Linked DNA regions of Homo sapiens: all the other regions are linked to region 5. The links come from fine-mapping of genetic effects on gene expression. A gene starts in region 5. Each other region holds a variant in brackets. All regions are shown on one strand. Distances are between the middles of the regions.

Region 1 (4,120 bases), 480 kb after region 5:
AATCTAATATACAGCATGAGGGCACTAGTTAATGATAACGTATTGTATACTAAAAATTCACTAAAAGAGTAGTTTTGTTACTCTTACCACACACACAAAAAGGTAACTATGTGAGGTGATAGGTTCATTTGCTAGACTGCAGTAATCATTTCACTACATATATGTATGTCAAAACATGTTATAAATCTCAAATATATATAACAAATATATATGTAAATAAACAGAATACCATTTACATTAACACCCCAAAATATGAAATACTTAGGTATAAAACTAACAAAATATGTATAAGATCTATATTAGGAAAACAACAAAACTCTGATAAAAAAAATTAGAAAACTAAGTAAATGGAAAGATAATCCATGGATAGGATGACTCAATATTGTCAAAATGTCAATCAGTTCTTTCAAACCTGATTTATAAATTCAATGCAATCTCAATCAAAATCCCAGCAAGTTAAGCTGATTCTAAAGTTTACAGCAGAAGCAAAAGACTCAGTAGAGCCAATACAATTTTGAAGAACAAAGCTGGTGGACTAACACTACCCAATGTCAAGAAATACTAAAAAGCTATAGTAATCAAGACAGGGTGGTACTAGGATAAAAGACCAACAGGTCAATGGAACAGAACAAAGAGCTCAGAAACAGACCCACATAAATATAATCAACTGATCTTTGACTAACGTACAAAGCCAATACAAGGGAACAAAGATTGTTTTTCAACACATGATGCTAGAATAAATGGGACATCACATGCAAAAACTAATGAATCTAGACACAGAACTTATAATCTTCACAAAAATTAACTCAAATTGGATCCTAGACCCAACTGTAAAATACAAAACTATACAACTCCTAAAGTATAACTTGCAGGGAAAAAACCTAGATGGTCTTGGATGCAACAATGAATTGTTAGATACAACACCAAAGGCACAGTCCATGAATGAAAAAATTGATAAGCTGGACCTCATTAAAATCAAAAACTTCTGCTCTGCAAAAAACAATATTGAGAGAATAAGACAAGCCACAGACAGGGAGAAAATATTTGCAAAAGACATACAAGAGACACTGTTATCCAAAACATACAAAAAACTCTTAAAACTCAACAATAAGGGGGGTGGAGCCAAGATGGCCAAATAGGAACAGCTCCAGTCTACAGCTCCCAGCGTGAGCGACGCAGAAGATGGGTGATTTCTGCATTTCCAACTGAGGTACCAGGTTCATCTCACTGGGGAGTGCCAGACAGTGGGTGCAGGACAGTGGGTGCAGCGCACCGTGCGTGAGCCAAAGCAGGGCAAGGCATTGCCTCACCAGGGAAGCCCAAGGGGTCAGGGAATTCCCTTTCCTAGTCAAAGAAAGGGGTGACAGACGGCACCTGGAAAATCGGGTCATCCCACGCTAATACTGTGCTTTTCCAACAGGCTTAACAAACGGCACACCAGGAGATTATATCCCGCACATGGCTCGGAGGGTCCTACGCCCACGGAGCCTCCCTCATTGCTAGCACAGCAGTCGGAGATCAAACTGCAAGGCGGCAGCGAGGCAGGGGGAGGAGCACCCACCATTGCCAAGACTTGAGTAGGTAAACAAAGCGGCCAGGAAGCTCGAACTGGGTGGAGCCCACCACTGCTCAAGGAGGCCTGCCTGCCTCTGTGGGCTCCACATCTGGGGGCAGGGCACAGACAAACAAAAAGCAGCAGTAGCCTCTGCAGACTTTAATGTCCCTCTCTGACAGCTTTGAAGACAGTAGTGGTTCTCCCAGCATGCAGCTTGAGATCTGAGAACAGGCAGACTGCCTCCTCAAGTGGGTCCCTGATCCCCAAGTAGCCTAACTGGGAGCCACCCCCCAGTAGGGGCAGACTGACACCTCACATGGCTGGGTACTCCTCTGAGACAAAACTTCCAGAGGAACGATCAGGCAGCAGCATTTGCAGTTCACCAATATCCTCTGTTCTGCAGCCACTGCTGCTGATACCCAGGCAAACAGGGTCTGGAATGGACCTCCAGCAAACTCCAACAGACCTGCAGCTGAGGGTCCTGAATGTTAGAAGGAAAACTAACAAACAGAAAGGACATCCACATCAAAAACCCATCTGTACGTCATCATCATCAAAGACCAAAGGTAGATAAACCACAAAGATAGGGAAAAAACAGAGTAGAAAAAC[C/T]GGAAACTCTAAAAATCAGAGCGCCTCTCCTCCTCCAAAGGAACGCAGCTCCTCACCAGCACAGAACAAAGCTGGACGGAGAATGACTTTGACCAGTTGAGAGAGGAAGGCTTTTGCACAGCAAAAGAAACCACCATCAGAGTGAACAGGCAACCTACAAAATGGGAGAAAATTTTTGCAAGCTACTCATCTGACAAAGAGCTAATATCCAGAATCTACAATGAACCCAAACAAATTTACAAGAAAAAAACAACCCCATCAAAAAGTGGGCAAAGGATATGAGCAGACATTTCTCAAAAGAAGACATTTATGCAGCCAAAAGACACATGAAAAAATGCTCATCATCACTGGACATCAGAGAAATGCAAATCAAAACCACAATGAGATACCATCTCACACCAGTTTGAATGGTGATCATTAAAAAGTCAGGAAACAACAGGTGCTGGAGAGGATGTGGAGAAATAGGAACACTTTTACACTGTTGGTGGGACGGTAAACTAGTTCAACCATTGTGGAAGTCGGTGTGGCGATTCCTCAGGGATCTAGAACTAGAAATACCATTTGACCCAGCCATCCCATTACTGGGTATATACCCAAAGGACTATAAATCATGCTGCTATAAAGACACATGCACATGTATGTTTATTGCGGCACTATTCACAATAGCAAAGACTTGGAACCAACCCAAATGTCCAACAAGGATAGACTGGATTAAGAAAATGTGGCACATATACACCATGGAATACTATGCAGCCACAAAAAATGATGAGTTCATATCCTTTGTAGGGACATGGATGAAGCTGGAAACCATCATTCTCAGCAAACTATCGCAAGGACAAAAAACCAAACACCACGTGTTCTCACTCATAGGTGGGAATTGAACAATGAGAACATAAGGACACAGGAAGGGGAACATCACACACTGGGGACTGTTGTGGGTTGGGGGGAGGGGGGAGGGATAGCATCAGGAGATACACCTAATGCTAAATGACAAGTTAATGGGTGCAGCACACCAACATGGCACATGTATACATATGTAACAAACCTGCACGTTGTGCACATGTACCCTAAAACTTAAAGTATAATAATAATAAAATTTTTTAAAAAAGAAAAAAAAAACTCAACAATAAGAAAAATAATTTGATTAAATAATAAGCCAAAGTCCTTAACAGACACTTCACCAAAGAAGATATACAAATGGAAAATAAACATATGAAAACATGCTCCACATCATAAGTCATCAGGGAAATGCAGATTAAAGTAACAATGAGATATTATTACACTCCTATTAGAATGACCAAAATCCAGAAAACTGACAACAGCAAATGCTGATGAGGATGTAGAGCAATGGGAACACTCATTTATTGCTAGTGGGAATGCATAATGGTACAGCTACTTTGGAAGACAGTGTGGCAGTTTCTTACAAAACTAAACGTTCTCTTACCATGTGATCCAGCAACTGCACTCCTAGTAAATACCCAAAGCCATTTAAAAACTTACATCCACACAAAAAGCTGCACACAGCTGTGTATAGCAGCTTTATTCATAATTGACAAAACTTGGAAGCCACCAAGACGTTCTTCAGTACATGAATGAATAAACAAACTGTGGTACATCCAGAAAATGAAATATTGCTCACGGCTAAGAAGAATGATCTATCAAAGTATTTTAAAATATGGCAGGGGCCAAGTAAGGTGGCTCACGCCTATAATCCCAGCACTTTGGGAGGCCAGGGCCGAGAAATCACTTGAGCGCAGGAGTTGGAGACAAGCCTGAGGAACATGGCAAAACTCCATCTCTACAAAAAAAATACAGAAAATTAGCCAGGCATAGTGGTGCGTGCCTGTAGTCCCAGCTACTAGAGAGGCTGAGGTTGGGGGGGATCACTTGAGCCTGGGAAGTTGAGGCTGCAGTGATCTCTGATCAAGCCACTACACTCCAGCCTGGGTGACAGGG
Region 2 (4,120 bases), 110 kb after region 5:
GTGTAAAGTGAATTAAAGGAAGAAAGGAATTTTGCACGCAAAATCCTTCTCTATGCAATATCCTACGTGTTCACCTCTTACTCCTGCTTCAGTTACTGTAGTCTATGAGGTACATCTTTTCTTTTCCCCACCCCCCAAAATAAGTTATGTGCCTCACTGTAATTCCCAAACACCTTGTACATGCTGTGCTTTACTGCAGCACTCATTATACTACATTTTAAATGTCTCTTACTGGTTTGTCCTACTAAACTGTGAGTTACAATTTGTCTCTGTAGTTCCAGTGCCTAAATATTTGTCCAATGAAAGAATGGGTAGGTTTTAGAGGCATTTACATAGCAACTTTGGTGTGTTGGGAGCACTGTCCTGGGAGGCCTGAGTCTCTCTCATTCTATCTCACCTGCTGCTACCAGCATGACTTGTGAGTATCCAGTTCCTTATGTATAAAATGAGGACATTCAGCTTTAATTAATATTTACTGAGAGTCCACTGTAAGATGGCAAGCTAGGTCCCCTTATACATATTTATCCATTAAATGTTTATAGCTACCCTCCAGTATATCTATTATTATGCCTATTATGCAAATGAGAAAACAGAGGCTCAGAAAGGTTAAGCAACTTACACAAGATCTTGAAGTCAGCAAATAATGTAGCAGCTTCTCAAATTCAAAACATCTGACTCCATGTTAGGTGATATACCCTAACACCATTATATCTTTCCTAGTATAAGGATGGACTCAATCTCTGAGACCTCTTTTAAGTCTCAGATTCTGTAGGTCTTTATTTATGAGTATGAAGTTATTCAAGTAATCTCATCTATCTGGAATACAGGCAAAAACCAGGAAATAATTTAAAAAACCAGTGAAAAAGGTGGTGGGGGCATGTGTATTGATGCAAATGAGAAGACAGATAAACAGCGAAAGTTGGGGTAAAAAACACCACCACTGAGGGAATCACCTTCTAAAAATAATGATAGATGGTGGACCTTGATGAATGGAGAAAATCAGAGACTCCCAGAGTTGGAAAGCCTAAAGTTGATTATCTAGTTCATCCTCCCAAACAGTGCAGGGGCTCCTTAATATAAGAGGTCTTCAAAATGTTTGTGAAAAATGTGTATTTTGAAAAAACTATGCATGGATTTCAATTATTTTTGCACCAAAATAAACTTACACCAACTTGTTATAACATGTCTGAAGAGGCTCTAGTTGGAAGCACAAAGAAAGATAAGACATCCATTTGAAAAGATCCCCTTTAAGAGCAAGACGAATTCTGCTAACATTGAAGCAAGAACAAACATCAAATTTATGGTGAAGCTTGGGTGGAAGAATTGTGAAATCACTGGTGTTTTACAAAAAGTTTATGGGGACAATGGCCCAAGGAAATCAGCAGTTTACAAATGGATAACTTGTTTTAAGAAGGGACAACATGATGTTGAAGATGAAGCCTGCACCAGCAGACCATCTACATCAATTTACAAGGAAAGAATTCATTTTGTGCTCTAATTGAAGGTGACTGATGATTAATAGCAGAAACAACAGCTAACACCACAGACTTCTCAACTGGTAGCTTATACAATTCTGACTGAAAAATTAAAGTTGTGCAAACTTTCCACTTGATGAGTGCCGAAACCATTGTGTCCAGCTCAGC[T/G]GCAGACAAGAGCACAGCTTTCAATGGAAATTTTAAACAAGGGGGATTAAGATCCTGAAGCACTTCTTGGAAGAACTGCAATAGGACATGGCTTTACCAGTATGATTCTGAAGACAAAGCACAATCAAAGCAATGGCTACCAAGAGGTGGAAATAGCCCAGTCAAAGCAAATGCGGACCAGTCAAGAGCAAAGATCATGGCAACATTTTGGGATGCTCAAGGCATTTTGCTTTTTGACTTTCTGGAGGGTGAAAGAATGATAACATCTGCTCATTATGAGTGCGTTTTGAGAAGGTTAGCCAGAGCATGAGCAGAGTAACACCTGGGAAAGCTTCACCAGAGGGTCCTTTTCCACCACAGCAATACTCCTGCTTATTCTCATCAAATGTAGGCAACTTTTCAAGAGTTTTGATGGGAAATCATTGGGCATCCACCTTTCAGTCCTGATTTGTCTCCTTCTGACTTCTTGTTTCCTAATCTTAAAAAATCTGTAAAGGGCCCCATTTTTCTTCAGTTAATAATGTAAAAAAGATTGCACTGACATGGTTAAATTCCCAGGACCCTTAGTTTTTTAGGGATGAATTAGGTGGCTGGTAGTACCACTTATAAAAGTGTCTTGAACTTGATGGAACTTAAGTTAAAAAAATAAAGTTCACATTTTTTATGTTCATTATGTAATTCAGTTTTTCCACAAGTTTTCCCTCTCTCCTCACTGCTGTAAACTAATCTTTCCCATTTTTAAATAAAATTTTGTTATTTCAGAACCATTTATGTTTAATCTAATTACCTATGTGTTAGGGCTTAAGTCCAACAATTTACCTTTTGTTTATTCTGTTTGTGGTCTGCTCTGCTTCTTGAACCCACACATTTACATCTTTTGCCAAATTTGGGACCATTTCAGCTACTATTTCTTCAAATACTTTTTCATCCCTGTCTTTTTTCTACTTCCATGAATCTGATGACATGAATGTTAGATCCCATGAGTCTGGTGACATGAATGTTAGATTTCTTGTTATGGCTCCATCAGTCCTTAGGTTCTGGTCACTTAAAACATTTTGGTCTGTTTTCTCTGTTGTTCTTCAGATTGGGTAATTTTGATCATTCTAACTTCAAATTCATTGATTCTTTCATCCTTTCTCCCCATTCAGTCATTGGAGCACATTCATTGACTTTTAAAATTTTGGATTATTATAGTTTTCAATTATAGCATTTCACTTGGTTATTCTTTATATCTTCTATTTTATTTCAATAGCTTTAGGGATCAAAGTGGTTTCTGGTCACATGGATGAACTGTATAGTGGTGAAGTCTGGGATTTTTGTGCACCTGTCACCCGAATAGTGTACACTGTACCCATTTCATCCTTTACCCTATTCTCACCTTTTCTCCTCCTGAGTCTCCATTGTTCATTATACCACTCTGTATGCCTTTGCATACCCATAGCTTAGTTTCCACTTGTAAGTGAGAAAATATATCTTCTATTTCTTTGCCGAGACTACTTTTTCATTTGCTTTAAGCATATTTGTAATTGCATGTTGAAGCATTTTTATGGTGGCTGCTTTAAAATCCATGTAAGAATTGTAACATCTGTTGTCTTTTCTCATTCAGGTTGAGATTTTCCTGGTTCTTTCTATGATGAGTGATTTTTAAATTATATTCTGGAAACTTTGTGTATGATAAGACTGTATCTTATTGAAATCTTGTTTTAGAAGACCTCCTCTGACACTGTTCTGATGGGGGGCAGGGAGTGTCACCTCATTACTGTCAGCTGGGGGTGAAGGCTGCCTCATTATCAGGTGAGGGCAGGAATTCAGGCTTCTGAGTTAGCCACCTGGAGATGGCATGTTACTGATATCACCACCTGGAGATGGCATGTTACTTGGTTTCCACAGGAGGGGTTTCCACATGAGGGGATGGGATAGGGCTTGTTACCACAGGAAGCTGGTGAGTCCTGGCATCTCACTTGGCCCCTTCTGGCACCATCCTGGTGACTGGGGAAGGAGAATCTCACTATCTCTCAGTAGGGGTAAAAAATCAGGCTTCCAATACAGTCTCCATGCACCCCGGGTGGAGGTGCATCATTACTGCTGGATGAGGATTAAAATCTCGATTTCCCACTCAGCCTTCTCTAACACCACCAAGGGATGGCGAGAGGGGCGTTGCATGAGTGCTTAACCCTTTCTTAAGACCTCTGATTCTTCCAGAGGTAATATCCACTCTTACTGCACAGGGAATTTTCTTGTAGAAATAGTGGTAGAAGGGGCAGTAGTGATAATAGTAATAGCAGCTAACATTTAGTGGGCACTTAATGTGAGGTTCCATGATAACAGCTCATCTGGATCATTTCACTTAATCGACACAACACTCTCACAAATCATAAATATTGTTATTCCTATATTCAGACAAGAAAACTAGGGTTCAGAGAGGTTAAATCACATCAGGGTCAGGATTTCAATCCAGGCTGTCTCACTTCTGAGCC
Region 3 (4,120 bases), 160 kb before region 5:
TGGATGCCGCCTAGGACAGGGTGTGACCCTCGTCCTCACGGGGCTCTGGGTGACTCAGGGGGTTTGGCAGCCCATAAATAGGCAGTGGAAATCTGGTGCAATGCCTGTATCACATGGGCACGTCCCGGGCTCTGCAGGCCAGGATGGGGAAGGCTTTCCAGAGGAGCTGATGTGGAGCAGAGCCCTGGGGAGAAGGCTGCCAGGCAGAGGGAACAGTGTGGGGTGTGCGAGTGGGTGCAGTGCCCCCGGGGTTCGGGGCCATTTAGAGGGTGAGCAGAGGGAGGCAGTAGGATTGGGGACAGGCTTGGGAAGGGGCTCTGTGGCTGACCAGAGAGTTTGGGCTTTATCCTGCTGGGACAGAGGAAGCCTGGAGGATTAAAAGCAGGACTGGGGGATCTGCTCAGATGTGAGTTGTTGATGGAGCCTTCTGGCTGCCGTTGGAGGCTGGATGGAGAGGGCAGGGTGGAGACAGGAAGACTGGGGACAGAGGCTGGAGAAGAAGGTGAGAGAAGCTGGGCTTTAGGCAGAGGGGGCTGCAGGGAAGTGGGGAAAGTAAAGTGCAGGGTGTCATCCAGAAAGCGACTGGAAGCCGATCAGGCAGTTCTCATTCTGCTGTTGAACAGGAAAACAAATGCTCTACTTCACTGCAGTTGGCAACGTGAAAGACACGGACACAGGGCTGCATCCGCCCCTCATAAATTCGCAGCCTCCCAGCCCAGCAGGGAACGCGCTGACCCTGCCGCACACCTCACCTCAGCCACACATGCGCCACGTGGCCAGGAGAAAATCCTAACGGCAACCCCACCTCCCAGGGTTTCCACCATGACCTCTGTCCGGAGCCCCCCGGGGACCCCAGGTTCCTGCCGTCCTGGTTCAAGTCACCTCCACATGTGGCCTCCTTCCCGGGGGTCTCAGCCGGAGGGAGACTCCCTTGCATTCTGCACAGGAAAGAGCCAATAAATAAAGACAGATTCCCTCTAGGTAGCGACATCTGGAAAAGAGATGAACAGAAACGAACCATTTTAATTTAAAAAACACCTGAAGCCTGTCATCTTAGTTAAGACAGCAGAAAGGGCCAGACAGGCTGGACTCCCAGTGGGGCCACCGGGGAGGGTGGGGGCTGCCTGGCCAGAGGGACCAGGAGGGCAGCTCTCCTGGAGTCTGTGGTGCCCACTCCACAGAGCGAAGCAGACAGATGCCTCACTTGCAGCTGTATTTTCAGACCTGGTTTGAGACTTGACTGGGTAACAGATACCCTGGAGGAAATGAGACTGTGGGCCCTGGAATGTCAGAGATGGCTAGACCCTTGGAGACAGCAGCCCATGGAATGGTTGAGAATAGACTTGGTTCTAAATAGACTTTGAGCTGGCTTCGAACCCAGGTGTGTCTCTCTTTAGAACACTTACTGGCCTTGTGGCTTTGGGCATTAATGGGACATCTATGGGCCTTGGTTTTCCTAATCTGAAAAATGGGTGTAGTAATAGAATCCTCGAAGGATGGTGATGAGATCGTAGCCTAAAGCCTGACACATGATGGGTAGCAACTAATGGGTGTGGACCCCGAAGTCCACCAGCCCCACCACACCTGCCCCACACACCCATTTTACAAATAAGAAAACTGAGCAGTGGCAGCTCGCCTTGGGGGCACACAGCTAGTCCAGGGGGGCATAGAACCAGGTGTCCTAACTGTGAACACTGTTCTTTTCCAGCCCATCACGTTGAGCCTCCTTTTTCCTACTCATGGCACTTAGCACTCAGCAAAAACATTGATCAGATTATGCATGGGGTATTTTATACTGCAGGCACAGACCTGGCTCCCCTCAGCTGTCTCA[A/G]TGGCAGCCCCCAACCCCGTTCCAGGACAGTCTAGTATTCCTTGTGACAAACTCTTGCTGTCTCCTTGCTGGAATTCTCAGAGTATAATGAAGACATTTCCAAACTGAATTCACATATGCTGCCTGAAAAATTGACATTTACCAATGAAATGTGTTAGGGTCCCAGTTTAAATACAACACCTGGCCTGGCGCGATGGCTCACACCTGTAATCCCAGTGCTCTGGAAGGCTGAGGCAGGAGGACTGCTTGAGGCCAGAAGTTTGAGGCTGCAGTGAGCTGTAATGACACCACTGCACTCCAGCCTGGGCCACAGAGCAAGACTGTCTCTAAAACAAAACAAAACAAAACAAAACAAAACGCTTTTCACTCCCTTGCTCTCTTGCTGGGGTGTGTTTGTACAACTATTTCAACTATTTGCCACAACTTCACCCAGCTCTTTTTAAAAAAATAAACTTTATTTTTTAGAACAGTTTTATATTGACCAAAAAATAGTGAAGCAGGTGCAGAGTTCCCTGTATCCCTTGTGCCTGGCTGCCCATCATTAACATCATACACTAGTATCATTTGTTACAATGAACAAACCCACATTGATACGGTACTCAGGTTTTCTTAGTATTTAATCTGTTATGTCCTCTGTTTGCTCCACGTCGCATTCAGTAGGCTTAGGCTCCTCCTGGCTGTGGCAATTTCTCAGACTTTGTTTCTGATGACCTGAAGGGTTTTGGGGAGCACTGGTCGGGTGTTTTTGTTTTACAGGATGCCCCTCTGTTGGGATTCGTCTGATGTTTTTCCCAGGGTAAGCCTGGGGTTGTGGGTTTTGGGAGGAAGACTGCAGAAGGAAAGTGCCATTCTTATTGTCTCACATCAAGAGGACACACTGGCCACGTGACTTCTCACTGTGATGCGGCCTGGATCACCCGGCTGGGGCAGCGTGGGTCAGGTGTCTCCACTGCACAGTTACTCTCTGTTTCTTCATCTTAAGCTTTTTTTTTTTTTTTTTTTTTTTTGGAACAGAGTCTCACTCTGTCACCCAGGCTGGAGTGTAGTGGCGCCATCTTGGCTCACTGCAACCTCCACCTCCTGGGTTCAAGAGATTCTCCTGCCTCAGCTTCCCGGGTAGCTGGGATTACAGGCACCTGCCACCATGCCCAGCTAATTTTTGTATTTTTAGTAGAGACGGGGTTTCACCATGTTGACCAGGCTGGTCTCAAACTCCTGACCTCAGGTGATCCACCCGCCTCACCCTCCCAAAGTGCTGTGATTACAGGCATGAGCCACCGCACCCAGCCCATCTTAACTTTTTAAGAAAGATTACATTGCTTCTTACCGTGACCCTGTGGAGACTCTCAGGTGAGCCTGTTGGCCAGTTTCTTGCATGAATATCTGATTCATTTCACCTTCTGTGCTACATGGCAGTTCATTTCTTGTCACAGGCCCACATGCAAGGTGCTCCAGAATCACCTTATATAACAGATGAAAGGTCCCTGGGGAGGGCAGCTGGCCCAATCCAGGATTTGGCAGATGGGGCATCTGAGGCTCAGAGAAAGGGAGAGGTGGGCCCAACGTGGCACAGCAGTTATGAGGCCAGGACGAAAACAGGTCTCTTGTTGCTCATTCCAGTGCCTTCCCTCCTGGATCACACTGGCCCTCTGGCTTTGACAGGGAAACAGGCTTCACTGCTTCCCTCATTCCTATGATCTCTTCTGGTTGTGGACACACCTCATGCTTAACAGATTCCTACTTGGGGAGGGGTGCCTAGAGGATCCCGGGAGGGGAGGAGGTCTCTCTGCTGGTCAGTCATACCATTCCAAAGCCCTGGCCATGCCTTCTGCAGTCCCTTCCAGACTCCCCGCTGCTGTGATAGAAGCACATGGCTTCTGACCCCTGAATTCAGCAATTCCTCAATTCCTTAGGTGGAAGTTCTTTTCCATTCTTTTTGTTTGTTTGTTTGTTTTTGGTGAGGGGTGGATCTTGGCCAGAATTTCATGACGAGTTAGGCTCGCTGGTACACAGATGGAGTCCAAAGTCACGATGCTAGAGGCTGCCCTTCAGAGAGACGGTGTGGATGCCTTGTCTCTCTCTCTGTCTTGGCTGCTTCAGAAACCAAAGCCATTTTAGATGCAGCAGTTAAATCAATGCAACGATATACTCTTCTGACTCATCTCACGAAACCACCTCTGAGGTTTTATGTACCTCCATGCGTGGGATCTCGCTCTAGTTCCGAAACACATTCTGAAGTCTCCGTTACACCCGCTCTTTCATGTTTAAGCCTGGTAACAGCTTTTGGTA
Region 4 (4,120 bases), 380 kb after region 5:
AACAACAAATAAAAACTATTTTTTAAAAAACCTAAGGCAGATATCTTTAATAGTTAATTGTGGAACCCATTCCTTATAAATAAGATGCCCACTAACGAAACAAAAGGCATAAAGATGAGGAAAAAAATCCCAACTATATATTGGTAGATTATATGTTTATTTACGTAGAAAACGCTAAAAAAAATCTAAGATTAATTATTAGAATGCTTAACAGAATTTATTGTGGTTGCTGAAACAAAATAAATGGTATTTCTTTTTTTTTTTAATTATTATTACACTTTAAGTTTTAGGGTACATGTGCACAACGTGCAGGTTTGTTACATATGTATACATGTGCCATGTTGGTGTGCTGCACCCATTAACTCATCATTTAGCATTAGGTATATCTCCTAATGCTATACTTCCCCCCTCCCCCCACCCCACAACAGTCCCCAGTGTGTGATGTTCCCCTTCCTGTGTCCATGCGTTCTCATTATTCAATTCCCACCTATGAGTGAGAACATGTGGTGTTCGGTTTTTTGTCCTTGCGATAGTTTGCTGAGAATGATGGTTTACAGCTTCATTCTGTCCCTACAAAGGACATGAACTCATCATTTTTTATGGCTGCATAGTATTCCATGGTGTATATGTGCCACATTTTCTTAATCCAGTCTATCATTGTTGGACATTTGGGTTGGTTCCAAGTCTTTGCTATTGTGGATAGTGCCACAATAAACATACATGTGAATGTGTCTTTATAGCAGCATGATTTATAATCCTTTGGGTATATACCCAGTAATGGGACGACTGGGTCAAATGGTATTTCTAGTTCTAGATCCCTGAGGAATCACCACACTGACTTCCACAATGGTTGAACTAGTTTACAGTCCCACCAACAGTGTAAAAGTGTTCCTATTTCTCCACATCCTCTCCAGCACCTGCTGTTTCCTGACTTTTTAATGATCGCCATTCTAACTGGTGTGAGATGGTATCTCATTGTGGTTTTGATTTGCATTTCTCTGATGGAGAGTGATGATGAGCACTTTTTCATGTGGTTCTTGGCTGCATAAATGTCTTCTTTTGAGAAGTGTCTGTTCATATCCTTTGCCCACTTTTTGATGGGGTTGTTTTTTTCCTGTAAATTTGTTTGAGTTCATTGTAGATTCTGGATATTAGCCCTTTGTCAGATGAGTAGGTTGCAAAAATTTTCTCCCATTCTGTAGGTTGCCTGTTCACTCTGATGGTGGTTTCTTTTGCTGTGCAGAAGGTCTTTAGTTTAATTAGATCCCATTTGTCAATTTTGGCTTTTGTTGCCATTGCTTTTGGTGTTTTAGACATGAAGTCCTTGCCCATGCCTATGTCCTGAATGGTAATGCCTAGGTTTTCTTCTAGGGTTTTTATGGTTTTAGGTCTAACCTTTAAGTCTTTAATCCATCTTGAATTAATTTTTGTATAAGGTGTAAGGAAGGGATCCAGTTTCAGCTTTCTACATATGGCTAGCCAGTTTGCCCAGCACCTTTTATTAAATAGGGAATCCTTTCCCCATTGCTTCTTTTTCTCAGGTTTGTCAAAGATCAGGTAGTTGTAGATATGCGGCATTATTTCTGAGGGCTCTGTTCTGTTCCATTGGTCTATAACTCTGTTTTGGTACCAGTACCATGCTGTTTTGGTTACTGTAGCCTTGTAGTATAGTTTGAAGTCAGGTAGTGTGATGCCTCCAGCTTTGTTCTTTTGGCTTAGGATTGACTTGGCGATGCGGGCTCTTTTTTGGTTCCATATGAACTTTAAAGTAGTTTTTTCCAATTCTGTGAAGAAAGTCATTGGCAGCTTGATGGGGATGGCATTGAATCTATAAATTACCTTGGGCAGTATGGCCATTTTCACGATATTGATTCTTCCTACCCATGAGCATGGAATGTTCTTCCATTTGTTTGTGTCCTCTTTTATTTCATTGAGCAGTGGTTTGTAGTTCTCCTTGAAGAGGTCCTTCACGTCCCTTGTAAGGTGGATTCCTAGGTATTTTATTCTCTTTGAAGCAATTGTGAATGGGAGTTCACTCATGATTTGGCTCTCTGTTTGTCTGTTATTGGTGTATAAGAATGCTTGTGATTTTTGTACACTGATTTTGTATCCTGAGACTTTGCTGAAGTTGCTTATCAGCTTAAGGAGATTTTGGGCTGAGACGATGGGGTTTTCTAGATATACAATCATGTCATCGGCAAACAGGGACAATTTGACTTCCCCTTTTCCTAATTGAATGCCCTTTATTTCCTTCTCCTGTCTGACTGCCCTGGCCAGAACTTCCAACACTATGTTGAATAGGAGTGGTGAGAGAGGGCATCCCTGTCTTGTGCCAGTTTTCAAAGGGAATGCTTCCGGTTTTTGTCCATTCACTATGATTTTGGCTGTGGGTTTTCAATAGATAGCTCTTATTATTTTGAGAT[T/A]TGTCCCATCAATACCTAATTTATTGAGAATTTTTAGCATGAAGGGTTGTTGAATTTTGTCAAAGGCCTTTTCTGCATCTATTGAGATAATCATGTGGTTTTTGTCTTTGGTTCTGTTTATATGCTGGATTACGTTTATTGATTTGCGTATGTTGAACCAGCCTTGCATCCCAGGGATGAAGCCCACTTGATCATGGTGGATAAGCTTTTCGATGTGTTGCTGGATTCGGTTTGCCAGTATTTTATTGAGGATTTTTGCATCAATGTTCATCAAGGATATTGGTCTAAAATTCTCTTTTTTGGTTGTGTCTCTCCTAGGCTTTGGTATCAGGATGATGCTGGCCTCATAAAATGAGTTAGAGAGGATTCCCTCTTTTTCTATTGATTGCAATAGTTTCAGAAGGAATGGTACCAGCTCCTCCTTGTACCTCTGGTAGAATTCGGCTGTGAATCCGTCTGGTCCTGGACTTTCTTTGGTTGGTAAGCTATTAATTATTGCCTCAATTTCAGAGCCTGTTATTGGTCTATTCAGAGATTCAACTTCTTCCTGGTTAAGTCTTGGGAGGGTGTATGTGTCAAGGAATTTATCCATTTCTTCTAGATTTTCTAGTTTATTTGCATAGAGGTGTTTATAGTATTCTCTGATGGTAGTTTGTATTTCTGTGGGATCGGTGGTGATATCTCCTTTGTCATTTTTTATTATGCCTATTTGATTCTTCTCTCTTTTCTTCTTTATTAGTCTTGCTAGCAGTCTATCGATTTTGCTGATCTTTTAAAAAAACAGGCTCCTGGATTCATTGATTTTTTGAAGGGTTTTTTTGTGTCTCTATTTCCTTCAGTTCTGCTCTGATCTTAGTTATTTCTTGCCTTCTGCTAGCTTTTGAATGTGTTTGCTCTTGCTTCTCTGGTTCTTTTAATTGTGATGTTAGGGTGTCAATTTTAGATCTTTCCTGCTTTCTCTTGTGGGTATTTAGGGCTATAAATTTCCCTCTACACACTGCTTTGAATGTGTCCCAGAGATTTTGGTATGTTGTGTCTTTGTTCTCGTTGGTTTCAAAGAACATCTTTATTTCTGCCTTCATTTCATTATTTACCCAGTAGTCATTCAGGAGCCGGTTGTTCAGTTTCCATGAAGTTTAGCAGTTTTGAGTGAGTTTCTTAATCCTGAGTTCTAGTTTGATTGCACTGTGGTCTGAGAGACAGTTTGTTATAATTTCTCTTCTTTTACATTTGCTGAGGAGTGTTTTACTTCCAACTATGTGGTCAATTTTGGAATAGGTGTGGTGTGGTGTGCTGAAAAGAATGTATATTGTGTTGATTTGGGGTGGAGAGTTCTGTAGATGTCTATTAGGTCTGCTTGGTGCAGAGCTGAGTTCAATTCCTGGATATCCTTGTTAACTTTCTGTCTCATTGATCTGTCTAATGTTGACAGTGGGGTGTTAAAGTCTCCCATTATTATTGTGTGGAAGTCTAAGTCTCTTTGTAGGTCTCTAAGGACTTGCTTTATGAATCTGGGTGCTCCTGTATTGGGTGCATGTATATTTAGGATAGTTAGTTCTTGTTGAATTGATCCCTTTACCATTATGTAATGGCCTTGTCTCTTTTGATCTTTGTTGGTTTAAAGTCTGTTTTATCAGAGACTAGGATTGCAACCCCTGCCTTTTATTGTTTTCCATTTGCCTGGTAGATCTTCCTTC
Region 5 (4,120 bases):
GCCGAGATCGCACCATTACACTCCAGCCTGGGCGGCACAGCAAGAGTCTATCTCAAAAAAAAAAAAAAAAAAAAAAAAAAAAAAGCCGGACCGGTGAGAAGACTAGACCTCCTAAAGGTGGAGGCGGAGCTCAAAAGCCGGACGCTACTGGACGAGGCTTAAAGCGCTCGCCCCAGCGCGGGGCCGGTGAGGAACGTTCACCGTGGACCATGGTCGAATAATGTTAGCGTGCACTCGGGGCCTCGCCCTAGCCTTCTGCAAAGCCTCGGCCTGCGCCCTCGGCTGCATCCGTTTCGACGCCAACCAACCTCATGCTCTTAGTAGAACGGCAGTAGCGACCGCGCCCTCAGGCCCACAAGCCCGAAGGTCTGGGCAGGGTCTGGAATGGCGGTGGAGACACTTTATCCGCAGGCGTTTCACCTCGCGCCCCACCCAGGCGCACACCAAGTTCTTGGTACTCCTTTTAATGGGAAAACAAGAACAGACACCATGGTTGGATAAATGTTATTTATAATTCATGGGCCGGTCTTTGAACCCTTTCAAACAAAACCCACAGCGATTTCTTTGAAAGAATGCCTGGACTGTGCTCAGAGCTCTCAGATTTTCTCAGGACCAACGAGCCGCCGCCTCGCAGATACCACTGTAAATTACCCAGCGCCTTACGTTCGTTTCTGATTATTTGCATTGCAGTGGGTTTGTTAATGAAGGACAAGAGTTTAGAAAAATCTTTTATTTTGGAAGTTGGACACGCAATCGACCCCAGCAGTGTTCCTAAAAGGAGCTATGCCATTTGGATGGGGGAAAAATGAGGGGGCGGGGAAGTCCATGTTACATTTAAAACAACAACAGCAACAAATTAAAAGCAAAACAAAACAACAAAAAAAAGGAAGTGGAGCAGGAGGAGGAGGTGGTGGTGGAGGAGAGGGAGGAGGGGCAGCAGCAGCGGCAGCAGCAGCAAGGATGGAGTCAGGACCCGTCCCAGTCCCGGGTGAGCGCTTTTGGATCTGGGTTCTGGCTCAACCCACGTAATGCCCCAATCTAAAGTTTTCTACGTGTGTGTGGATAGGAAAGTCTAAATAGAGTTTATCAGAACCCAGGTGGTCATTCTCTACACTCTCTCTAGCTTGGACCCGAAGAACAAAGGCACATGAGAGGAGAAAGGTGACCAGCTGGACGATGACGGTCACGTCCAAACGGATCCCCCTTGTCCTCGGCTCTCTCGTCCTGAGAGTGGGTTTAATTTTTTTTTTTTTAATTTATATAAGAAGGGAGCTCTTAAAGGAGAGCCATCTCCACCCTCAGGTATCCATCACCCAGCTCCAGCGCGCCTGGGAAAACCGCCCCGAAAGTCCAAGAGGAAGCTCAGAGTTGTAACGGCCGCGGAGCCAGCTCGGCGGTGACGCAAGGTCCAGTCCAGATTGCCAGGCCCGGGGCATGAGAGAGGATCCTTGTAGGTTTCGGAGGTGGGGGGGCTGCACTCCATTGTTCACTCCGGGCCAATCAGGGTTGGCCCACTTCCTCCCAGCCAATCTCCCTTCACCCCCAGCCTCCAACCCAACCCACCCCGCCCATCAGCCCCTGGATCCCCATCACCTCCCCCGCATCCCCGGCAGTTCTGGGGAAGCTTCGTGACGCCACAGGTCCCGCCCCCAGCTCCGGCCCGGGGCTAGTGCGTGTTGACGTCATGCTGCGTGCGGGCCGGTGCGGAATCGCTCCTTCAACTCCGCGGGGCAGTAGGAGTTAGTTAGCAAAGAGCCGAGGCCGGGCGCGCGACCCTCGTCCTTCTGCCCCTGGCCGCACACTTTGCGCACATCTCTTTTTCTGCATGGTGGATATTATTTTTCATTATCCTTTTCTGGGTGCTATGGGTGATCATTCCAAGAGTAAGTATTTCTGTGTGTGTGTGGGGTGGGGTGTGTGTGTATGCTTAATATGCAAAATTTCTAATGCAGAAAAATGTTTAGTGGATTCTACAAGTGGCTTCTATTTGTCAGAATAGTTTAGGAGAGGAAAAACGAATGCATGTCTCCTGCAGGACTGCTTATCTTTGGGAATCCTGTTGTTTTATTTTATAAGTAAACACTATTTCTCAAGCCGGCTAGGATGACTTCGGGCTGCGAAATCTGCTTCTGTTTTGCGCAAAGGCAATTAGGTTTGATTTAGGGATGTGGGTTTTTTTTTTTTTGGTTGTTGTTTGTTTGCCTTTCGGTTTTTCAAAGCTAGGAAGCTTTCTTTCGCTTGCTCTGGGATATTTAAACTAAGAAATGTCTGAGAGGATGAGCGGGGACTGCCGAAAGACGATGTGTCTGTGTTGGGATAGGAGGCAGCCGCTGTGAGTGGGAGTGTGTGAGCGGAAATGCCAGGACAGCACCGTTAGGTGTTGATATCCAGGCGTCCGCAGTGCCTGTGTATTTACTCTCTTCTTAGTTTCGTGTTTGCGTTTAGTTTCAAGACACGTCGACAAAACGACTGTCATTAATGAATGTAATAACGAAATATTTGGGGTGGGGGACAGAAGAAACCTTCAGCAATCCACAAGATACTGGTTTTTCGTTTCCAATGCCCTGGACCTTTAGAGAGCTCATCATCTTTCCTTATGGTCGCAAGTCTTGAAAGAAAGAGCAAGAGAGCGAGCGGGTTGGGTTGGGGCTGGAGTAGCCGAGGCCGGCCTGGGTCCGGGCAGTCAGGCCTGACGCGGCCCCGCGCCCTTCCCCGGCAGAGAAGCCCGGGACGGCCATGTGCGTGGGCTGCGGGAGTCAGATCCACGACCAGTTTATCCTGCGGGTGTCGCCCGACCTCGAGTGGCACGCGGCCTGCCTCAAGTGTGCCGAGTGCAGCCAGTACCTGGACGAGACGTGCACGTGCTTCGTGAGAGACGGGAAGACCTACTGCAAGCGGGACTATGTCAGGTGAGGCCGGCGGGAACGCGGGCTGGGCCACCGCGCGCAGGGGCCGGGGCCGGGACTGGGGATGGCGGCCTGCCCGCGCGCCCCGGCCCTGCCCAGGGAGAAGGCCATCCGCATCCCGCACGGGTGCCGCAGCGCTCCCCCGGGCCCGGGAATGCCCGCAGGCGGGTCACCGCAGTCTCCTGGTGGCCACAAAGTGTCCTGGGCGCGCGCCGGAGCCGTAGCAGCCAGGGAGATGAGGGCGGCCGCAGGCCCAGCGCTGACACCGCCGCACCTTGGGCCCGCAGGCTGTTCGGCATCAAGTGCGCCAAGTGCCAGGTGGGCTTCAGCAGCAGCGACCTGGTGATGAGGGCGCGGGACAGCGTGTACCACATCGAGTGCTTCCGCTGCTCCGTGTGCAGCCGCCAGCTGCTGCCTGGGGACGAGTTCTCGCTGCGGGAGCACGAGCTGCTCTGCCGCGCCGACCACGGCCTCCTGCTCGAGCGCGCCGCGGCCGGCAGCCCGCGCAGCCCCGGCCCGCTTCCCGGCGCCCGCGGCCTGCATCTGCCCGGTAAGCGCGCCGGGGCCTGTGCCGGGGTGAGCGGGGTGTATGTGCGTGCGTGTGTGTAGGGGTACGCTTGTGTCCCTAACGAGAAGTTGTCAGTTGTGTGTGGTTCCGTCTGCCGGGATAGTGTTTTTCTGTATCAGTGCGGAACTGTGTGCTGGGAACAAGGCTGTGTGTATTCTCGTGTGCTCGGGAGAAACTGCGTGTGTATGAGTGTGTGAGCACGGAGAATTGTGCAGAATCGTGTTCTCCATGACCAGGAACATGCAGGGCACAGTGCTAGGAGCAGAAGAGTGGATGACAACAGGGAATCTTAAGTGGTGTCCGTCTTGGGGCTTGTATTAGGAATTTCTTGGAGGAATATGTGTTATTGTCAGAGGGTAAGGTTTGCCCAGGGGTATGTGTGTAAGTAACACAGCTCCAAACTGGGAGCTGGGCAGGAGCTTGGTCAGCCAGGAGCCAAGAACCCAACAAAGAGGGGTTTTTGCCATCTTGTTTTGAGGCCCAGTTTGATGAACAATTTAGCCAGGTTCTTCTGGGGGAGGGGGAGTATCAATGCATAGTGGACTGTCACTGGAATATTCTGGGTCCTAATCAGCAGCTGCCCAGAGATGGGGTCTGAGTGTATAATGGGCAGGTACGGCTGAACAGAAACAGAGGTGCCTCCACC

Evidence for each region. PIP is the estimated chance that this variant, and not a neighbour inherited with it, causes the effect.
Region 1: its variant is fine-mapped to the expression of ISL2 in whole blood (TOPMed, PIP 0.94).
Region 2: its variant is fine-mapped to the expression of ISL2 in whole blood (TOPMed, PIP above 0.99).
Region 3: its variant is fine-mapped to the expression of ISL2 in whole blood (INTERVAL, PIP above 0.99).
Region 4: its variant is fine-mapped to the expression of ISL2 in whole blood (TOPMed, PIP above 0.99).

Annotation. Positions count from the first base shown.
Region 1 is chr15:76,817,490-76,821,609 of GRCh38, forward strand. All of the region lies in intron 5 of SCAPER (S-phase cyclin A associated protein in the ER), which reads right to left. Among named protein-coding and RNA genes, the nearest start is that of SCAPER, 86 kb to the right of the region's middle. The variant C/T (reference allele first, on the strand shown) is at 2,165.
Region 2 is chr15:76,442,107-76,446,226 of GRCh38, forward strand. All of the region lies in intron 25 of SCAPER (S-phase cyclin A associated protein in the ER), which reads right to left. Among named protein-coding and RNA genes, the nearest start is that of ISL2, 110 kb to the left of the region's middle. The variant T/G (reference allele first, on the strand shown) is at 1,644.
Region 3 is chr15:76,177,794-76,181,913 of GRCh38, forward strand. All of the region lies in intron 8 of TMEM266 (transmembrane protein 266), which reads left to right. It overlaps LOC101929439 (a long non-coding RNA gene), which reads right to left and starts at 3,693. Exons shown (of 3, transcript NR_120360.1): 1 at 3,159-3,693; 2 at 753-991. RefSeq lists enhancers at 3,784-3,833, 4,044-4,093. The variant A/G (reference allele first, on the strand shown) is at 1,832.
Region 4 is chr15:76,719,671-76,723,790 of GRCh38, forward strand. The region is part of intron 17 of SCAPER (S-phase cyclin A associated protein in the ER); the gene reads right to left. Among named protein-coding and RNA genes, the nearest start is that of MIR3713, 140 kb to the left of the region's middle. The variant T/A (reference allele first, on the strand shown) is at 2,424.
Region 5 is chr15:76,335,059-76,339,178 of GRCh38, forward strand. ISL2 (ISL LIM homeobox 2) reads left to right here and starts at 1,715. Exons shown (of 6, transcript NM_145805.3): 1 at 1,715-1,883; 2 at 2,720-2,909; 3 at 3,194-3,456. The coding sequence starts at 1,826. RefSeq lists enhancers at 1,450-1,744, 1,556-2,055, 1,749-1,798, 2,224-3,035.